2 separate regions of the Homo sapiens genome follow, and region 2 is linked to region 1. Evidence: fine-mapped expression QTL. A gene starts in region 1. The other region holds a variant in brackets. All regions are shown on one strand. Distances are from middle to middle. Region 1 holds the start of BOLA3-DT (BOLA3 divergent transcript). Region 2 has its middle 20 kb from the start of BOLA3.

The links. PIP is the estimated chance that this variant, and not a neighbour inherited with it, causes the effect.
Region 2: its variant is the best candidate, but not a certain one, in a credible set for the expression of BOLA3-DT in fibroblasts (GTEx, PIP 0.53).

Annotation. Positions count from the first base shown.
Region 1 is chr2:74,146,579-74,149,604 of GRCh38, reverse strand. It overlaps BOLA3-DT (BOLA3 divergent transcript), which reads right to left and starts at 1,624. Exons shown (of 3, transcript NR_045636.1): 1 at 1,382-1,624; 2 at 1,127-1,255; 3 at 1-907. BOLA3 (bolA family member 3) reads left to right here and starts at 1,693. Exons shown (of 4, transcript NM_212552.3): 1 at 1,693-1,784. The coding sequence starts at 1,731. RefSeq lists an enhancer at 1,280-1,939 and a silencer at 1,473-1,952.
Region 2 is chr2:74,126,214-74,128,713 of GRCh38, reverse strand. It overlaps a transcript of TET3 not described here. Among named protein-coding and RNA genes, the nearest start is that of BOLA3, 20 kb to the left of the region's middle. The variant A/C (reference allele first, on the strand shown) is at 1,362.

The DNA.
Region 1 (3,026 bases):
GCAACATAGAGGAAAAAGATCAATGTCTGGGAACAACAGACACTGGGGAATACAAGACTGGGGAAGGAGGAAGGGGGCAAGGGTTGAAACTACCTATTGGGTACTATGCTCATTACCTGAAGGACGGATTCGTTCATACTCCAAACCTCAGCACCATGCAATATACCTCTGTAACAAGCCTGCATATATACCCCCGATTCTAAAATAGAAGTTGCAAAAGGAAGTCCCTCTACCAATTCTCATTGGTCTGGCTCAGACCATGGGGCCGACCCTAAACCAGTCTCTGATTAGCCAGACTTGGGTCCTGTTTCCATTCCTAAAGCTGGGGATAGGTGCGCCTCATCTAAACCATGCTGTCTGAATAGCAAGGGAATGGTTCACCATTACTACCCTGCTTGAGAAAAAATTTTTTTGACAGTTTAAATTGCATCATTGACAGCAATGAAGAAAACTTAGCAAATCATCTCTAAACATTTTAAAAGAATGAAGCAGAAAATGTAAGACAGGCTAGTAATTGATCCAAAGGAGAAATTCTGAAGGCCAGAACATAGGAGTCAGTTAATACTGTAATAAATAAATTAGACAATATCCATATATAACAACTATAGGTCCAATCCATCCAAGTGCAACGCTGAAGGGACGTATTGATTGCATAGGCCAGAATGTTGGCAAAAAGCTGGTAAATCCTGCAGGGTGCCACCAGACCGCGTGCTGCAAACAAATAACAGCTAGAGAGAGGAGAGGCTTGGTTGAATTTCGGCCTTGACTGGTCTGAAGACTCCAGAGGCGGGACGAATTTGCGGACAGTTCTACCCCATCCCACATGGCGTCAGCTTCCCTTCCATTCTCATGACTCCATGGTCCATGGCTCCAACCTGGGCCTCTGTTAGGCTGTGTCCTGTGGCACCTTAAACTCAGGCAAATTAAGAACTGTTCGTGGACTCTGCTCAGCCCCCACCTAACCCTCCATCCAAGTCATTGTCCAAGCCAGAAACTGGAGTCATCTCAGATACCTTCCCACTCACACCTCCACATGCAGTCGCTCGATTCCATTCACCTCCCAAGTGTCTCAGTTCATTCTTCCATCCCTCCCGCCACTGGTTTAGTTAGGCCCCTCCATTCTCACCTGGACCATCGCGGTAGCCTCGGAGCTTCTGACTGTGTCTCTGGTTGCAGCCCCTACACGCTCTCTTCCTTACAGGAGCGGAGCGATCTTTCTCAAGCGCGAATCAAATCCTTCCACGAGTCCCCGCACCTGGAGCGAAGGCCAAACTCCTCAGCTTAGAAGCTAGACTGCCAGAGTAGGGAGTGGGAATGGAAAAGTACATCAGGAGCACGAGGGGTATTCGGATGAGGGAAGGCCAGTATAGGGCGCCGAGACCTTGGAGTGTTTCTGAGCTGAGGAGGAATGAGACTTTCACGCGGGCAAGGGGACCCTATCCATGAAACAGGCCCTGGGGAGACTGAAGGAGAGCGGCGCGAGCGAAGGCAGAGGGCGGGGCCCCGAGGTCGGCAGGCGCTGCAGTGTCGGGGGTGGCGAGTCAGCCAGGGCCAGGGGATGGCGGGGTGGGGCCGGAGCCAGGCGACCGGAGGCCTCCGGGGCGGGGCCGGGAGGCTGACGGCCTCCGGGCGGCAGGGGGCGGCCTCTCCCACGGCGGCGGCTCTCGGTCCCCCGCTCCGCGTCTTTCGGGCATACAGTGACCTCGGGCGGCGGGTCACGTCGGCCGGGCATGGCTGCATGGAGCCCGGCCGCGGCAGCGCCTCTCCTCCGCGGGATCCGCGGGGTGAGCGTGGGCAGGGTCGGGGCTGCTCTCCCCGGGACGGGAGCTGCGGAGGGACCGCGGGGCCGGCGGCTGTCGGGGCTTGAGGACTGGCTCCCGGAGGGCGCGCGCGGCACTGGCAATGGGGGGCTCCTCTTCCTTTCTCTCATTCATTCTTTCATTCATTCATTCACTCAGCGACAACGGCATTCGAAATTTCAAGCTCTGGCGCGCTCTAGGGGAGCTCCCGAGCTGGGTGGAGGTTGGAGGTCAGGCGGACAGACACATGAACAGTCATAATACTGCGGGCACAGGAAAAAAAAAGGATTGGTTTACCGAGCAGAAGACAGGAGTCATAGCCCAGAGTCAAGGCGTGGGTGCGAGGGACTGCAGCGGGGCCGGGGCCTTGGGAAGGTCGACTGGGCCTCTGACCTTGATCCTCCTCCAAATCCCACACTACCGGAGCAGAACCCAAGCAGGGGGCACTTCCCACGCGCTCTCCTAATCTCTCCCCCTTTCTGAACCATCCTTTGCTTCAGCTCATACCATTCTTTCTCTTAACTTTCATTTTCCTTCTCCCCTGGTTCTGAACCTGCCTGCCCTGTGCATGAAGAGAAGTTCTTCCACTGCGGTGACTTTCAGCGTGGACAGTGATCATCTGGGGATGTCAGTTGATTGTTCCACTAAAGGCCGCTGCCCACAGATCCGCTAAGATGAAAGGCTTCTCCCAAGGATTCTGCAACGCTCACCTCTCTCACCCCTTAGTAGCTGCCGATTCTGTCTGCCATCTGGTTACTCTCTGCCTTTACCCTCAAGATTCTGCCCCCAGAAGCAGCTCCACCCCACCCTCACTCCTGGCAATCCTGTCCAGCCTCTCAACATCGAGTTTCTGTCCCTCCACACAGCAGGCAGACAATCACACTCTGGACCTTTCTCCTGTCTTGCATTTCTGTCCCTAATTGACTAGTTCTTCCCCTGCTCATTCATTCATCCAGCACCAAGTGCCTCTGAGGGCCTGCCCTGGGGTCAGCTCTGGGATGCTGCCGGACTCATTCCTGGCCTATAAGACCAGTGGTGAGAGAGCCAGTGCACAGCTCATTTTAAAGGAGGTGCTCTGAGATTCTGTGACACAGGACCCTGCTCTGAGCTATCAGGAAGGACTGAGGGGTAGAGGGGTGGGACCTTCAGCACCAGCACCCATGAACGGCCCTAGTGTCCTCCAACCTGTCATCCACGTCTAGTCAGGGACCAGTGCCCGGTGCTTCC
Region 2 (2,500 bases), 21 kb after region 1:
AGCCTTTTTTTTTTTCTAATAGTCTTTATTATTTTTTTATAGTCTTTATTGTTTTAGAACAGTTCTACATTTACAGAAAAATTTTGAAGATAGTGGAGTTCCCATATGTCCCACATCCAGTTTCCCTGATTATTCACATCTTACGTTAGTATGGGGCATTTGTTACAATGAATTTGTTACACTATTATTAAGGAGAGCCCATACTTTATTCAAGTTTCCTTAGTCTTCCCTTAATGTCTTTTTTCTAGGTAGCCCCTCCATGAAACCAGATTACATTTAGTCATCATGTCCCCTTGGCTCCTCCTGGCGGTGGCAGTTTCTCCGATTTTCCTTATTTTTGGTAAGCCTTAGTCCATATAAATATATTCTGGGGGAATTATAGATGGGTTTGACAGAAAGCAATTTTAAAAACAAAAACTACAAAAGAAGAAAGTCACAATCAATTGATTAGTTGAAAGTTACTCTATTCCAAACATCTTGGCAAACATTAAATAATCACATTTCAGAAACTACACCAAGCGAAAAAAAAAATGCCTTGAGTTATGGACATCAGGAAGCAGTAGCTTTGCACAAAAAGGATGGGTTTAAGGAGAACACTGTTTGAGGTGAGGTTTGGTAGATTTACAAACAAGGTTAGAGAAGGCTTCTATACACACATTATTAACCTGTGACATTAAATATATCTCTAAAACTTTATAACTTTTCCTTTTATTTAACAGAACTGTTGGAAGAAAACAAACAATATTTTGACTAGAAATGGAAATTCCTGATGCTTTGGGAATTGTTTCAGTACTTTTTCTAATACTTTAGGCATTGACTAGAAGAACTGAGACTAGAAAATACTCTTGCCTGTTTAGTCAGTATCACGTATCTTCATCTGTTTGTTGTCGCTGCTGAAGCACACACTTAAAATAATCATCATACATTTATGCACACAACCCCTTCTCCCGTGCCCTATACAAACCTATTAAGCTATTTTTCCGAATCAAATTTGCACAACTTTAAAGAAAAAAAAAAAACCTCACAGAATAATGTGTTTTTCAAGGCAGGCATTTTAAAAGCTAATCCCAACTTGCCCCGTTTTAGGCTTTTACAGTGTTTAACTTGCTTTCTTGGGTAGTTAGTCTGGAAATGAGTTCATCATCTGATATAGGATGGCTGGATTTTAATATTTTCTGTCTCCAATTCGTTTGGTTAAATGCCTAAAGCTGGTAGTCTACTAGTGCTGAAGGAAGAGGGGAAGCATTTATGGCTCATTAGAACCAATCCCCATGGTTTCCAGGTCAGCTGATTTTCTCACTACAATACTTAACAGCAAGATGAGAGGCTTTATTAACATCATGTCAATAAAGCCATTAATA[A/C]TTCAGAAGAAATTTTAATTACAAACTTAAAAGAATTACATAGTTGTAAATTAGTCTGTCACTAAGTAAAGACTACTACATTTCACTTTGGGAGACCTTGTAAAATGTAAGCTAACTCATTGCTGGAACCTTGAAACAGAGGTCATCCGGATCAACAAGCATGAGTCCGTCCCTTCTGCCAGCTTCTGATCCCCTCATTTGAGTTTATGAGATGAGCCAATAATGAATGTAGAGGCAAGCAGCTCATTTTTCTACCTAAAACTAAGTCTCAGCCTGACACTTTTCTTCTGACCCAGTTACAGCTGCTTCTCTGGTGTGTGCTTCAATCCTCTTCACTGGGCACCATTAAACACTGGACTTGGTAGCTGTCTATGCATGTGACCAATTTCACTATCCATCTTCTGGCTTCAGTGCCAATTTTAAGAATGCTAATTCCTACGTGGCCAGATTTCTATAAAGATGGCAAATTATTTTATTCTGGCTAAAATTAATCATATTATTAATATTTTCTAAAGTTAGCGTTTACATTTACTGCTTTAAAAAAATTCCAGGCTGGGTGTGGTGGCTCACGCCTGTAATCCCAGCACTTTGGGAGGCCGAGGCAGGTGGATCATGAGGTCAGGAGATTGAGACCATGCTGGCTAACACGATGAAACCCCGTCTCTACTGAAAAAATACAAAAAATTAGCCGGGAGTGGTGGCGGGTGCCTGTAGTCCCAGCTACGTGGGACACTGAGGCAGGAGAATGGTGTGAACCCGGGAGGCGGAGCTTGCAGTGAGCAGAGATGCACCACTGCACTCCAGCCTGGGTGACAGAGCAAGACTCCATCTCAAAAAAAAAAAAAAAAAAAATCCAGCAAATATAAAATTTAGGCCTAAAAGATGCCAATGATTTAAAACTCTACACAGATCTAAGATCAATGCCTATGTATGAGTGTAGCTACTGCCACGAGGCATTCTACTCATAGCCAGCCTAGGAAAGTGTGAGCTGAATACAGGTCCTATGCCAAAAAACCTCTGCCTGAAACAGAACTACAGACGTGAGAAGCATTAATAGATGTGCACTGTATTTATATAAGCTTCTCTTTTCAGCATTAAAACAGCTGATCTACTGTGTCAATCTGGTAGAGATCAGTTGG